Regions from separate parts of the Homo sapiens genome. Here region 2 is linked to region 1. The links come from fine-mapping of genetic effects on gene expression. Tissue or cell type: whole blood. Region 1 holds a variant in brackets; the other region holds the start of a gene. All regions are shown on one strand. Distances are from middle to middle.

Region 1 (8,103 bases):
TTTCTTTCTATTGTGAATATTTATTTGGGGGAAAAAAAACTTCAAAATTGAGGATCTCTGTAATTTAAATCCTACTTAACAAAGTAAATGCATGAACAGGTTGTCTAAACATCTTATTATACTTGTTCCTTGGTGGCTTCCTCCCTTTGTTTACACTGCCATATCCTATGTCCAACTCCCTATCTCTTCTCCATTGAGTCTTTGCCCTGCTGGCTTTCCTAGCAGTTGACACGGAAAAAGAGGCATTCTAGCTGCAAGTGGTGGTGTTGATTTTCTGCAGAGTCATCTCATCTTGCATAGCTGCCATGCCTGGAGCTCAACCAGATTGAGTAAAGAGAGGCAACAGGATTTCTCCTTCCCTTTGGAAGAATGCTCAGTTCTGCAGTGTACTGCACAGAGATCTGTTTATTAGGGAAAGTATCCAGCTGGTATGGAGTGGGAAAGTGTAGATTATAGCTTAAATAAAAGCTGCATTGAGAAGAGAGAATTGATTGGTGGGAAGCCAGGGTGTTTCTAGAAAAAGAGATTCTACACCCTTACAAGCATATCACTTCTCTGAGCTGGAAGCCTTTGCCCAACTAAGTTTCAGTATCATCAGCTCTCCTGGAGGCTGTCCGATTTGGCTGAGAAAAAGCTAGATGTTGATAGAGACCCTTTGCAGAAAAGCAGGCAAACAAGTATATTGGACACATAACCAATAATTTTGCTCATGAATTTGAAAAATAGAACTTTTACTGCTGATTATCTTTTTCAAGATTTGACATTACAAGATTTGACATCTTTTGGGAAAGTGTTTCCTTTTCATAAAAAAATTCAGCCTAGGGAGAGGATCAGGAAAAAATAGCTAATGAGTACTAGGCTTAATACCTGGGTGATGAAATAATCTGTACAACAAACCCCCATGACACAAGTTTACCTATGTAACAAACCTGCATATGTACCCCTGAACTTAAAAGTTAAAAAAAAATCCTCAAATTGGTTACTTTTAATGTAGATGAAGAGAAACAGAGGGTGTGTAAATAGGTGAGACAGTAATAGAAAGGATTATTTTATCACATTCATGATTTTTGTCCCTGAATGTGATAAATTCAGGAGGTGTGGCATAAATTTCTCTTAGAAGGAAAAGTTAATAAACAGCTTATGCCTGGTTGCCACAGTAATGTGACTTACAGTATTGAGGCTATAGGAATGATATGATAAAATATGGACAGAGATACCAGTCCTTGGATATTATGTCAAGTTATATTTATCTTAGCAGAACTCCCACAGTACAGTCCTTATTTGCTATAAATGTGCTGTAGTCTTCTATTTTCCTTGGACATTTGGACTCCAGCAAGGCTATTTCCTGAGGATAGCATGAAAAGAAATCAGTTACTTGGGTCTTTGGGCCAGCGTACAGTGCAAGGGAACCAGAGTAAAAGATGGAAATGAACTTACTTTAAAATGTATTATAGTCCAAAGGTTTCATTTTACACTTCAGTAAAATTAGAATATGCTTTGCATAATTACATAGAACATAATGGAAACCCTGGTAGAATTACGTCACCATAAGCCTATGAAGCATGGGCGGGGGGGAAATTGGGTCTGCAAAGAGCCCCGGAAGTCTAATATACATGGCATTTGTATTGAGTACAGAAAAGTAATTATACCAAGTGGTCTCTAGGTCTTTCAAACTGAACCTGAAGCAGCCCTAAGTGTAGCCCAAGTCCCTTTGTATGGGCTTCAGTGAGTCAGTAACCAGTGCCTTTAATTTATTTGCCAATGGATAGGTATCACTTCACATTGTCAGGTTGAACTCTCTCTGGACAGGTAGATGAAAACTAGGGACTTTATCCATCGTGTCAATGTTATTTTCATCTAACTGGACAGAGTTCCACGAAGGATTTAGATTTCTAAATTAAGAAGTGAGGTGGTCACATTTCGCTGGCTCCAGTTTAACTTCTCAGCCCCTATTGTTTGGCATCTGTCTCCTTGAAGTCCTTTGTAGTTCTTGGCTATTTCTTTGGTGCAGAAGCTTGTTTTCTAAGGTTGAGCAGAGCCTTCAGAGCCTCCCATATTTTTTTAAAACAAGCCAGCAGGGCTCTTGCCTGTACATCACCACTGACCTTTTCCTAAATGGAACTTCAGCACAGTGTCCTTGAGCTTTCCCAGTTCAACGGCCAGATTACAGATCACCTGTAATATGATAGTACTTACACAACACTTAACAATTTTCACAGTGCTTCATTTACTGGTCACATTTGATCTTCCAATTAACAAACGTTTGTCTATCCTCTTTATTGTGTGAGGTATGAGACTAGGTATTTGTACAGTCTGATCTAATTCTAGAAGGAGAGCATGATGAGCCATATCAGATAGATACTCAGAGAAGGCCAATGGAATAAGGATACAGTGGTGATAAGACAATTAGGAGAGGTCATTAGTAACATCAGCGAGAGTGATGAGGGCAGAGGCCCAAGTGCTATGGATGAGATACGTGGGAAATGAGGAAATAGAGAAAATGAGTATTTGCTTTTCTTTTTTTTTTTTTTTTTTTTTGAGATGGAATTTCACTCTTTTTGCCCAGGCTGGAGTGCAATGGTGCTATCTCGGCTCACTGCAACCTCTGCCTCTTGGGTTCAAGTGATTCTCATACCTCAGCCGCCCAAGTAGCTGGGATTACAGGCACGCACGCACCACCATACCAGGCTAATTTTTGTATTTTTAGTAAAGTTGGAGTTTCACCATGTTGGCCAGGCTGGTCTCAAACTCCTGACCTCAGGTGATCTGCCCACCTCAGCCTCCCAAAGTGCTAGGACTACAGGCATGAGCCACTGCACCCATCCAGAAAGTGAGTATTTGACTTTATTTCTATGAAGTCATGAAGGAAAGGGAGAAAGGACAGAGTCTGCAGGAGGATTTATGAGAGAGAGAGGGGTTTTCCATTTTAATATGGGAAAAACTTTGCATGTATAATTTGAGGGAAATGTACCCATTAAATATATACTACTGGGGTGGGAAGGGGTTTTCATTTTACAGATAAAGACAGAGAGGTTGGCCAGGCACAGTGGCTCATGCCTGTAATCCCAACACTTTGGGAGGCTGAAGCGGGCAGATCACAAGGTCAAGAGATGGACACCATCCTAGCCAACATGGTGAAACTCCATCTCTACTAAAAATACAAAAATTAGCTGAATGTGGTGGCGCACACCTGTAGTCCCAGCTACTCGGGAGGCTGAGGCAGGAGAATCGCTTGAACCTGGGAGGCAGAGGTTGCGGTGAGCTGAGATTGCACCACTGCACTCCAGCCTGGCGACAGAGCGAGACTGCAATCTAAAAAAAAAAAAAAAAGGAGAGGTTAGGCAGTTGGCCCTAATGTCCCCACCCACAGTAGGAAGGGCAGTCAGAACTTGAACCTAAGTCTTCTAATGCTAAATTCCATTAATGCCTCTAATTCTGAAAGAGTAAACTCTTATTATAAAATGTCTGCCCTGACCAGGCGTGGTGGCTCACGCCTGTAATCCCAGCACTTTGGGAGGCCAAGGCAGGCAGATCACGAGGTCAGGAAATTGAGACCATCCTGGCCAACATGGTGAAACCCATCTCTACTAAAAATACAAAAATTAGCTGGGTATGATGGTGCGTGCCTGTAATCCCAGCTACTCGGGAGGCTGAGGCAGAAGAATCACTTGAACCCAGGAGGTGGAGATTGCAGTGAGCCAAGATCACGTCACTGCACTCCACCTTGGCGATAGAGCGAGACTCCGTCTCAAAAAATATATATAAAATGTCTGGCCAGGCGCAGTGGCTCACGCCTGTAATCCCAGC[A/G]CTTTGGGAGGCCAAGGCAGGCAGATCACAAGGTCAGGAGATCTAGACCATCCTGGCTAACACGGTGAAACCCCGTCTCTACTAAAAATACAAAAAACAAAATTAGCCGGGCATGGTGGCATGCGCCTGTAGTCCCAGCTACTCGAGAAGCTGAGGCAGGAGAATGGCATGAACCCGGGAGGTGGAGCTTGCAGTGATCCGAGATGGTGCCACTGCACTCCAGCCTAGGTGACAGAGCAAGTCTCGTCTCAAAAATAAAATAAAATAAAATGTCTGCCTTTTCAGAAGATATGAACAGATAGCTCAAAGATAGAAAATAGATCTTAAACAATGAAAAGTTGCTCACTTTTACTTCTAAGAGAAATGCAAATTGAAACTACACTGAGACACCTATCAGACTGGCAAAAATTCAAAAGCTTAACCACAGTTTATTGGAGAGGCTGTGGGGAAAGTGGTGCTCTGATGCATTGCTGGTGGGACCACAGAATTGTTTCAGCCTCTACGGAAGGAAATTTTGCAGTGTTTAACAAAAGTGTATCCTGCCTTTGACCTAGCAAACCTGCTTCCACAAATAAGAAATATCATTCATAGGAGACTAGTTGAATAAACTATTATATCAGTACTCATGAAGTACTATGCAGATGTAGGAAAAAATAAGATCTCTATGAACTGTTACATTTAGTGGTTTTGAGGATATATAAAATGAAATATATGTAAAATGAAAGCAATTAATAAAAAATTATGTGTAGCATATTAGTAAGAATTGGTAATATGAGTAAGAAGTAGCAATAAGCATATGTTTGCTTATATTTTTTCAAAATAGAGTAAATCAGAAACTAATGAAAATGTCACCAATAGGAATTAAAGAGATAGGAGTGAGAGTGAGACCTCTTAGTTTACTTTTTTTTTTTTTTTTTTTTTTTTTGAGACGGAGTTTCGCTTCTGTTGCCCAGGCTGGAGTGCAATGGCACAATCTTGGCTCACCACAACCTCCACCTCCCAGGTTCAAGTGATTCTCCTGCCTCAGCCTCCCAAGTAGCTATGATTACAGGCATGCGTCACCACACCTGGCTAATTTTGTATTTTTAGTAGAGACGGGGTTTCTCCATGGTGGTCAGGCTGGTCTGTAACTCCCAACCTCAGGTGATCCGTCTGCCTCGGCCTCCAGAGTGTTGGGATTACAGACGTGAGCCACTGCACCCAGCCTCTAAGTTTACTTTTTAATAAGCTTTTGACTTTTAATCACATAAAAGTTTTGTATGCCCAAAATATTAAATGGGAAAGAATAGAAAAAGCACTCTAAAATTGAATACAAGCCAGGTATGGTGGCATGCACTTGTAGTCCCAGGTACTCAGGAGGCTGAGGCAGGAAGATCACTTGAGGCCAGAAGTTCAAGGCTATAGCGCACAATGATAGCACCTGTGAATAGCCACTGAGCTCCAGCCTGGGCATCATAACGAGACCCACCTCTTAAAAAAGAAAATACAGCTGGGCACAATGGCTCATGCCTGTCTGTAATCCCAGCACTTTGGGAGGCCGAGGTGGGCAGATCATGAGGTCATGAATTCGAGACCAGCCTGACCAACATGGAGAAACCCCATCTCTACTAAAAATACCAAAACTAGCTGGGTGTGGTGGTGCGCACCTGTAATCCCAGCTACTCAGGAGGCTGAGGAAGGAGAATCAGTTGAACCCAGGAGGCAGAGGTTGCGGTGAGCCGAGATTGTGCCATTGCACTCCAGCCTGGGCAACAGAGTGAAACTCTGTCTCAAAAAAAAAAAAAAAATACAGATTGTGGGGAATTCTCCAAGATAACAGATGTGGAGTCTACAAAAATGTCGATATGTCAATATTATGAAAGACCCCCTCCCACACTCCCAAAGAAAGCAGAAGATGTACTGTTCTAGATTAAAGCTAGGCTGGGTGTGGTGGTTCACTCCTGCAATCCCAAATTTTGGGAGGCCAAGGTGGGGAGGATCACTTGAGGCCAAGAGTTTGAGACCAGCCTGGGCAACATAGTGAGACCCCATCTCTAAGAAACAAAAGTAAAAAAATTAGCAAGGCATGGTGCTGCCCACCTGTAGTCTCAGCTACTCGGGAGGCTGAGGCAGGAGGATGGTTTGAGCCCAGGAGTTCAAGGCTGCAGTGTGCCACTGCACTCCAGCCTAGGCAACAGAGCAAGACTCTGTCTCTAAAAAAAAAAAAAAAAAAAAAAAACAAAGTAGCCGGGCACAGTGGCTCACACCTGTAATCCCAGCCCTTTGGGAGGCCGAGGCAGGCGGATCACCTGAGGTCAGGAGTTTGAGACCAGCCTGACCAACATGGTGAAATCTCGTCTTTACTAAATACAAAAAATTAGCTGGGCATGGTGGCAGGCACCTGTAATCCCAGCTACTCGGGTGGCTGAGGCAGGAGAATCGCTTGAACCCCAGAGGAGGAGGTTGCAGTGAGCCGAGATTGTGCCATTGCACTCCAGCCTGGGCAACAAGAGTGAAACTCCCGTCTCAAAAAGAAAAAAGAAAGTAGGCTGGGCACAGTGCCTCACGCCTGTAATCCCCGCACTTTGGGAGGCCGAGGCAGGCGGATCACTTGAGGTCAGGAGTTCAAGACCAGCCTGGGCAACATGGTGAAACCCTGTCTCTACTAAAAATACAAAAATCAGCTGGGCATGGTGATGCATGCCTATAATCCCAGCTACTCAGGAGGCTGAGGCAGGAGAGTCACTTGAACCCTGGCAGTGGAGGTTACAGTGAGTCAGGATCATACCACTGCCCTGTAGCCTGGGTGACTCTGTCTCAAAAGAAAAAAAAGTGTAGCTAGAGGATAGAGACATGACAACTAAATGTGAAGAATTATCCTTGATTGAGTAAATATAAAGGACATTTTGGGGACATTTGTAGAAATTCAAATATGTATAGTGTATCAGGTTATTGTGTTAATGTTACATTTCTTTGGTATGATCATATTATGTAAGAAAATGTTCTTAGATGATACATGCTCAAGTATTGAATAAAGTGTCATGGTGCACAAAATGCTCTCAGATGGTTCAGGGGGAAAAAGTATGATATGTACTAAAAGAAAAGGGAAAGAAGGAAAGAAAGCAAATATGGCAAAATATTAATAATTGTGTCCTCCAGATCATCAGCAGAACCTCTTCCCCCAAAGTTTGCCATTTATCCCTATCTTAAAATTTTACATATAATGTTTCCCTCATTTGTTTGACAGAAGCTGCTATTTCAGTGTCTTCTCCTGCCACACACAAGTTCTGTCCTTTAACTCCTTAGATGCAACTTAATGCACTAAAAAGAGTGTGAGCGGCCCTGCGCGGTGTCTCACACCTGTAATCCCAGCACTTTGGGAGGCTGAGGCGGGTGGATCACGAGGTCAGGAGTTTGAGACCAGCATGACCAGCATGGTGAAACCCTGCCTCTACTAAAAAATACAAAAATCAGCTGGGCATGGTGGCGCGCACCTGTAATCCCAGCTACTCAGGAGGCTGAGGCAGGAGAATTGCTGGAACCCGGGAGGCAGAGGTTGCAGTGAACCGAGATCACGCCATTGCATTCCAGCCTGGGTGATGGAGCAAGACGCTGTCTCAGAAAAAAAAGAGTGTGAGCTTTGGAATAAGGTGTAGTTCAATGCATAATAATGCTGCTTTTGTTATCTGTAAAAATTCAGCAAATGTTTATTGAGCACCTGCCAGGTGCCAGGCACTGTGCAAGGTGCGTGGGTTTCCATAGGGAAGAAAAGAGCTGGTTCCCGACCTCTAGGAGCTTATATTAAAGGTAGTTAGAAAGTAAGCACATAAATAAATATATAGGTACAAATTGTGATACATGCTGTTGAGGAAAATAGGAGATTACTATGAGCAAGAATAACAGAAGACATCTAATTTAGATTGGATGATGGTTAAAGACACCTCTCCTGCTGTATGATCATGGGCAAAAATTATTTGAATTCTATGAGTTGGTTTTTGTATCTGTAAAAATGAAGATGAAAATAACATTCTTACTCTATCATTTGTGAAAACTAAATGTGATAACATATGAAGTGCCTGGCAACTTAAAGGGCACTGGTAGATGTTATTAGTCTTCTTTTTGAAAGTTCTTCTTCTCTCGCTCCTTTTCAAGTATTGTTTGGTTGATTTGCTAATACTCCTTAACCTTGTCTTTTTGGCTCCATAGGGCTCAGAATGGAATGCCTCCAACTTAGAGGACTTACAGAACCGAGGGTAAGCACACAAAGCAATAGCTGGCACCCCTGTGTAACAGAAGTCCCTGTTTTATCTTCATTTT
Region 2 (8,103 bases), 36 kb after region 1:
GGATACTGTAGTAGACATGTAGTACTATAGTACCGTAATATTCATCTCTCCTCATTTTAGTTGCCTTTCAGATTCTAAATGTTTGGGATCATTCCTATCATCTTAGTCTCTTCAGGATCTTTAGTATTTTCCTGGTTCTGAGGAGGCTTGAGACAGGGTTATGGATTTCCTTGTTCTGTGTCTTTATCCCTACTGATAGTTCCTCTTTCTCATTTTGCAAACTACCCAGAGCTCCAAGGACAGCCTGAAGATCTCAGTGCCTCAGGCTCTGAGGTACTCTGCTCACAGGCCCCAGACAGATGCTGTTGGGTAAACTCAAAGCTTCCTATGAGAAGCTTCTGAGATGTAGCAGGTCACAGAAGTGTTCACCTGTTTCATCTGAGGATTTCAGTTCTGAAGTGATCTAGGCATGTTTGGTAAAAATGTTTTTGTGAGAGTTCTTTTTTTAAGAAAGCATTATGCAAAAAGTCACTTTTAAGGGCATTTAAAAATTTTTAAGTAAAGCCATTCTTTGGCTTTTTTGGACTATTTGTGGATACTTTGTTTACATTTTGAATATTAAAATGTGCATCATCTTGTCGGCCATGCAGTCCTGCAGGCATCAGTGCCCTGGCTGTCCTGTGAGTCCTCATGCAGAGCAGGGCCATCATGGTCAGCCCTTGTGAGTAAGTGGGTATACGCTGAAGCTGACTTCCGTCTGTGTCCTGCCCTCCCATCCAGCACTCTCTATGGAAATAGTTGTCATTTCCTCAGTGATGGTGTGTCTTATAGTGATGGTTGTAATGGTGAATGGCTAGTGTCATTTTGTTTAATTTTGTTTTGCTTTTTGATGGTGGATAAGATGAAATTTTAGCTGTTTCAGCATCAATCCAACTTAAAAGCATCTTGGACTTTGTTTTCCCTTCCAAACTAAAAGATCAAGGCATGTATTAGACACAAGCATATTTGCTGCCTCAACTCCTCTGACACCCATATTAGGAAAAGGCCTGCCACCAAAGCAGGAAGCTGCACACTCCTAACCCTTCTCCCAGGGTGTGGGGTCCCTTGACGTCATGAAGAGCTATTGCAAGGTGCTTCTGTACTTTTCCAGCCTGGAAATGGAGGGTGACTGGCCCTGGCTCCTGCTATGAGAAGATAACCAGCCTCATTTTCTCAGTGCCCCAGAGGTCTAGGATAGGATTTCTAAACTGGAATCATCCTTAATCACCTTGAAGATCCCTTAAGAGGCATTTGACTGGTGCTGCCGTCTGTGTCCTCAAAGCAATGCTGGTGGCAGCGTCCTGTGTACACATGCAGAGCTAATACCCAAACTAAAAACTGGGTAACTGGCCCTGAAGTGCTTCCCAATCAGTAAGCCCACAGGGAAATGTTTGATTTTTATGTTCTGTTGGATTTTGGTTTGCTTGGCATATCTAAAGGTGCCTTTACTTTTCTTTTTTTTTTTTTTTCTTTCTGCTTTGTTTTGTAGGACTTGTTCTAACATGGAAAACAAGTCCAGAAGACTCTCCTCTGACTGTTACCTTTGCCCCAAGCCACCCCAAACTTTTATGCTCATGTTTTATTAAAGCAGGTGCTCCCTGGAATCTCTGGGACATTTTTGAGGCATTTGAAGCAGAATATAGAGTGGTCTCATCTCCTTCCTTAATCTTCCTGGTGGTTGGGATGTTCCACTTGTATCATAGATTTTTTTATTACAGATATGCTCCACTGTTTTTAAATGTGAACTTGTGCGCAAATGTGCAGATTCAATGTTCTTGTTACAGATTGAATAAATTTTTATTTTGAAGATGAAACGTGTACTTCATCAGATGCAACAAAGGAGGGAGGTGCTGGAGAAGGTGGGAGAGTCAGAAGAGGAAACACAGTGAACACCAGTAGTTTTCAATGATTGATCCCAGTCATGTCACCCTGAAGAGAGAGCTGAGTCCCCAGAAATAAATGAAACACCTCAGCCCACTGAAAAATGTCTAGAAATGGGACATGAACATCATGAGATATTTAGTGGTGCCATTCATCACATACAAGGCAGGACTACCATCTAGGGAGAGCTCAGTTTCCAGTTCCCAATTGCTAACAAAATTTGAAGTCCCCGCCCCCCTCAAAAAAAAAAATCACTGCCTTGAACTAAAGTCAGCCTGCTTCATTCTGAATCATCCATATCAAGTGGGAGGGGCACAGTGCTGGTCTTTAGCTGGAGTGCATGACGGTGAAGGTAAGGTCTTTCACAAAATATTCTAAGGATCCCTGGGATCCCTGACCAATCTAGATAAGTTCAGTCTTGGTTTTCTAGCCAAAGCAGATGGACCAAATCATGGCTAAGTTGCGAGCTACCTCATCCAGAAAATGGCTTCCTAAAAGATGAAATCCATGGCTGTCTTCTATGGATTGCCGTTCAGAGCTAACAGTTCAAAAGGGAGGCACGAAGCCCAAGTAGCTTCTCTCCCTGATTGGTTCTTCCTGCCTTAACTCTGCCCACTCACAGCTCTGTCAGGCCTTGGCAGCCAGAAGAAGGCTAGAGGGCAGGGCTGAGCTACGCCAGGCCCAAGCAAATATCTGAATCCCTGTACCCAGAAAGCACTGCTCTTCCTAGATGATGGAACTGAAGGGAGCACGCATTGAAGGATTCCTGCTTCCTAGTCCCAAGCGCTTCCCTCTAGAAGGGAGTCTCCTGTTCTCTTTAAAGAGAAGGAGGGTGGGGGTAGGGGAGATGCCACTTCAGAGGAGGCAGCACATAAAATCCCTACTCTGCTAAGGAGTGGTGCAGAGTTGGAAAGAATCTGACCCAATCCTGTTCAGAGAGCTGTAAAAATATGGCGATTGAGCCAGGACTGGAACCAGTTTTTTAATTCATTCCAGGCATCCTTTCCTCTGTGCCACACAGTATAAACTCTCAGTTACGTTTTAGCTCAGCACTTGTGAGATAAAGTGGCACTGTCCTTCAGGGAGAGACAGAAATGCATGCTGCTGAAAAGCAAGAACCAGATGCCAGACCACGTGGGTAAGAATCATAGCTACATCAACTACCAGTTGAGGTTGTGATGGGTAAGCCACCTAACCTCTTTGTGGCTCCATTTCCTCAACTGTTAAATAGGGATAACAACAGTACCCACCTTAGAGGATTGTTTTTTGGTTTTTTGTGCGTGTGTTTTATTTGAGACAGAGTCTCATTCTGTCACCCAGGCTGGAGGGCAGTGGCATGATCTCAGCTCACTGCAACCTCTGCCTCCTAGGTTCAAGCAATTCTCGTGTCTCAGCCTCCTGAGTAGCTGGGATTACAGGTGTGCATCACCACACCTGGCAAATTTTTGTATTTTTAGTAGAGATGGGGTTTTGCCATGTTGGCCAGGCTGGTCTCGAACTCCTGACCTCAGGTGATCCACCTGCCTCAGCCTCCCAAAGTGCTGGGATTACAGGCGTTAGCCACCCGCGACCAGCCTAGAGGATTGTTAAGAGTATGAAATTAATACGTATAAAGCCCTTAGTGCCAGTGCCTAGCACATAAGCATGGGTTATTGTTGTAAAGGAGCAACTGAGTCACTCAGGTATTTTCCTCCTAATCATGTGCCTGGAATCTTTAGGTAAAAGAGAGATGACTCACATACCCTCATACCCTGCCCCAGCACCCCTACGCCAGGAGTTATTTCTGGAGCACTCGTAACAGTTTTTTATTCTGTTCCCCTACAAGCCACTGACTCTTGATTTGATTCTGTCCCTACAAGCCACCTGGACTCTTCCTGAGAAACAAAGGAGCCTCGTGGGCCCTTCATGGTTTCTACCACCTTCCCTCCCTTTCCTCCCCAGTGCTGGTTCCTGCCCTTCAGAAGGCTGTGTTCCATTCACTCACTCCCAGGTGTGCCCTGGAGGGTGGGAAGTAATAACTGGCCCCAGATGCCCTTATGATCCAAGGGAAGAAATCCAGGCAATGTGCAGACACTGGGTAGACTGGAGCTACGGGACTGGCTGGTCTTCACTGGCTGTATTTTGATCAGGTTATCTTTAATCTCCTTGACCTCGGTCAACATTCAGTTCTGTGAATATTGGGGGAGACGGGGGAAGCTTACCTGGAACACAGTCGGGCGCCAATTCAAACAAGGCCCAGAAAACATTAGGAGTCTGGCCTCTGAGTTGGCTTCTCTGACCCCTAAAATGTGACTAGAGACCGGTGCTAGCCTCTTCCCCCTGCATCTGGGAGGGGAGGGAGTGTCAAGGTGGGTTCACTTTACACTCGGTCCTCCCCTTGTTCTTTCAGCTGCTTCCTGCCCTGCTCCATGGAATCTCATCTAATGGGGTGAAATGCCTAGCACACAGCCAGCATTTTAGGTTTCTCAAATGATCGCTATTGCCATTCATAACAATAACTAACATTCACAACCCTGTGTCGGGTGCCCTCTCACTTGCCCTACATCAGGATCAGCCTGGGTCCTCATTCTCTAGGGCCTCTTTCCCCCAGGGAGGCCTGGAAGTGCAGTCCCGCAGTCCCGGCCGATCGGGACAGCTAAATTGGGAGCGCGATTGAGGCTGGAATGCGGGTGGAGGCACCTGGTCTCCCTCGGCTGCCCGCTCTAGGGGCGCACGCCCCCTCGCCCGTTCCCTCTCCAAGCGTCCTGCTCTAGGTCTGCGAACCCGAGCCTCCCCAGCCTACCCGGGAGTCATGGAGGGAGGGAAGCAGCGTGCGCACCTAGCACACAGCTGCACATTTATTTTCGATGGTTCTCCGAGGCCGGCGGAAGCTGGGAGGGGAGTCGGGGTCGCTCGACTTTCCCGCCGCTGGAGGGGGCGGGGCAACTTGGGCTCTGGCCCCGCCCCTATGCTAGCCCCGCCCTCTTAGGTTGATGGCAGCGGCAGCTGGGGCTGCAGCGGCGCCGGGCTCTAGAGAGCCGCAGGATCGGCCAGAGTGCGGAGCTGGACACCCGGGTCCCAGATACTACAGACACCCGGAGAGGTGGCTCCTTCGCCCTGAAGCCTTCCTCGGCCCCCTACGCACTCGGGCCCCTTCCGCAGAGGATTCGCAGCGTGAGCGCCCCGCAGCCCGCTCAGGACCAGGTACCCAGCCCCCCACACCCGGCCGTCACCGCAGCCAGCGGAGCGGGCGGGGTCCCTGAGGGGCAGAGGTCTGCGCCTCCTCCCCCCGCGCCGCCAAATTCGGTTTCGGGCGGGGAGGACGTGGTGTCTATATTTGGCCGGACAGCAGCCAGCGCTCCCGGAGGGCGCAGACACCTCGTCTCGCAAGAACGCAGTGTCAGGGCAGCAGGCTGAAGAAGGGTGCAGGGAGGCCGGGCCTCAGGCTCGGGGCCGCAGACGCGCCTTGAAGGGCACACGGATGCTGGGGCTGGGGTGGGGCAGGAGCCACTGGCTGGGGCTTTGGGAGTGCTCAGTGTGTCCTCTAGGGAGACCCTAGCTGGAGAAAAGGCACCTCACCCTCCCCACCCCTGCAAATCTGGCTTGGCCGTGGCGGGGGCAGGGGTGGAGGATGGGGTTGAAGACCCCACCCCTAGAAGAGTTCACTAGGAAGAAGGCCCAACCAGGGCAGAGGACCCAGAGGAGAAACCGGACAAGCCTATGGTAGGCAAAAGCCAGAAGACCATGATCAGGGCTTCCTGGAGAAGCCAGTGCAGAAAGGAGTGGGAGAAGAGGGATCCACCTCACTCTGTGCTGCCACCCGTCCCCCCACAAGGCATGGGATGAAAACAGTAGCAGAAAGGACTCAGATTGGTGGACAGGAGGAACTTCCCCCTTGGCAAAATTTTAGGAAAAGGCAAAACCCCATCTGCCTGAACTATTCCAGAGATGCGAGTTCGGTATCCTGTGGTGGCTGCAGTCTTGGCCCCATACCTGGCTTTAAGCCAAGATCCAATGGTCAAGTCTTCTGCTTCTGGACAGGGTGCCTCTGGGAGCTACAACCACGTCCGTGAAGAGATGCTCATCAAGGCTGGCGGTGGTGGGGGCGGGGGGTGCAGGCAGTGTGGCATTGAGGCTCCTCCCAAAAACATTCCAACGTCCAGAAAGCTTTCAGTCTGTTAGGCTCCACAATCCCCTCAGCCTGGGTCTCTGTGGAGAATTCAGGCCCCAAATCCTAGCCACTTACATTAAACAGCATTTTACACAGCAAAATAACTTTCCCATACTTTGACCACCTTGAAGAAAGCTCCCTGCTTCTAGGACCAGACACTATATGGATTTATACCTGACTCCTGACCACATAACCCTTCTCATCAGCCACCCCTCCACTCCTCCTCCCTCCCGCAGCTCACAGGACTAAGGACCAAAGGCATTTCTGGGCACTGAGATCCTACCTCTCTGCCTGCAGCTATGAGCAGACGTGTGGTTCGGCAAAGCAAGTTCCGCCATGTGTTTGGGCAGGCAGCAAAGGCCGACCAGGCCTACGAGGACATCCGTGTGTCCAAGGTCACATGGGACAGCTCCTTCTGTGCCGTCAACCCCAAATTCCTGGCCATTATTGTGGAGGCTGGAGGCGGGGGTGCCTTCATCGTCCTGCCTCTGGCCAAGGTGAGGGATCAGGGAAAGGAAGCAAGTGGGAGGACACTAGCTGGGGCCCCTGGGAACTCCTGAGCCTTTGTTCTCACCTAGTTCCATTCCATAGTCAGGAGAAGCATCTGTGTGGATTGGCTCCTCCCTATTCCCCAAGCCCTCAAGGACCAGAGGGGAGGCCACCCCACCCCACCCTAACATCAGGGTGGCTTACTCCCACTCCCTAGCCCTCCCACCTCTCCATGCACCACCCCATTCCCAGCAGGGACCAGGAGGGGAGCCGGGTGATGGAGATGGTTGGGACACAGCACAGCCAAGCCTGGCCAGATTCCATCACTGCCTCTCCTAATGCCGCATCCCCTCATGTTTTGGGTGTGGAGAACCTCCTCCCTAGCCCAAGATGACCATTTGATTAAGTCACATCCCAGAGCAGCAAACTGAGGACAGGGTCAGGCTCTATCCAAAGAGTCCCTGGTTACCTCCAAGGACACTTGCAGTGAAGTAGAAAGAAAGGGAACGGAAAGGAAGGGGGACATGACACATAAAGCCAGAGCCCTCCCTACCCTCAGGATGGGGACCAGGCAATGACTACCACGTTAGCTTCATAACCTTAAGCCCCTTGACCATCCACATCCCAAGGATGACTCTCCCCCAACCCCCAAGGTATGACCTTGACCTGGATTCTGGCCCCTACACCTTGTTAGGGTAGGCTCCACAGGTGGCGGGGTCAGGAAGAGGCCTGAAAAAGCCAGTGACTCACCCCAGACAATGCAGACATCATCCTGGGACACAGCCCCAGGGCTCAAATTTCAGCCGGAGCTGCCTCCTCCCCCAATATGTCTGCTCTTTCAGTACCACATAGCCACCCTCTCCCCCGCTGCCTGGTCTGGACCAGTGTCTGCCCCTGCAGAGGTCTCAGAACCCCCACAAGCAGCCTGTGAAGACCAAAAAATAGATGGGCCCCCAGCTCCCATTTGGGGATAGTAGGCACCAGGACTGCTTGCTGCTTGTGGTTCCAAGGTAAAAGTGGTTCACAAGGAAGAGATCTGCCAAGGGAGGCCAGGAAAGGGCTGTCCAGCACTACACTATTATCTCACCTTGACCTCTTCCACCAGGAGATTCCCACAGACACTTCAATAGGAGAACAGGCTGAAGAACAGCCTCCTCCAAGTAGGTGTCTTTGGAAGAGCACTGGGCTGGAAAGTTCAAATCTCAGCTCTACAAGTATCTTGTTGTGTGTCCTTGATGAGGCCATCTTACCTCTCTGTGTCACAGTCCCTAATATTAAATTATTTCAACTCTGCCTTCAGTAAAGTGCAGGAAGTGGACTGGATGGGGTTAGAAGTGCAGAGAGGGATCTGCAAAGAGAAAATAGGTAATAAGGAATCGAGATGTAAGCAGATCTGCTACCCACTCCCCAAAAAACACACAGGAGAGTAGCCCCACATCTTCTTCTCCAACCCCTCAGACAGGGCGAGTGGATAAGAACTACCCACTGGTCACTGGGCACACTGCCCCTGTGCTGGATATTGACTGGTGTCCACACAATGACAACGTTATCGCCAGTGCCTCAGACGACACCACCATCATGGTAGGAGCCAGGTGGCTACTGCT

What was found. PIP is the estimated chance that this variant, and not a neighbour inherited with it, causes the effect.
Region 2: CORO6 starts here. The variant in region 1 is fine-mapped to the expression of CORO6 in whole blood (TOPMed, PIP above 0.99).

What each region holds. Positions count from the first base shown.
Region 1 is chr17:29,655,497-29,663,599 of GRCh38, reverse strand. It overlaps SSH2 (slingshot protein phosphatase 2), which reads left to right. Exons shown (of 16, transcript NM_001282129.2): 12 at 7,993-8,039. Among named protein-coding and RNA genes, the nearest start is that of SSH2-AS1, 20 kb to the right of the region's middle. RefSeq lists a silencer at 75-369 and an enhancer at 75-369. The variant A/G (reference allele first, on the strand shown) is at 3,808.
Region 2 is chr17:29,619,628-29,627,730 of GRCh38, reverse strand. CORO6 (coronin 6) reads left to right here and starts at 4,819. Exons shown (of 11, transcript NM_032854.4): 1 at 4,819-5,043; 2 at 6,247-6,507; 3 at 7,958-8,080. The coding sequence starts at 6,310. SSH2 (slingshot protein phosphatase 2) reads left to right here. Exons shown (of 16, transcript NM_001282129.2): 16 at 1-1,793. RefSeq lists enhancers at 3,019-4,218, 7,126-7,420 and a silencer at 5,006-5,155.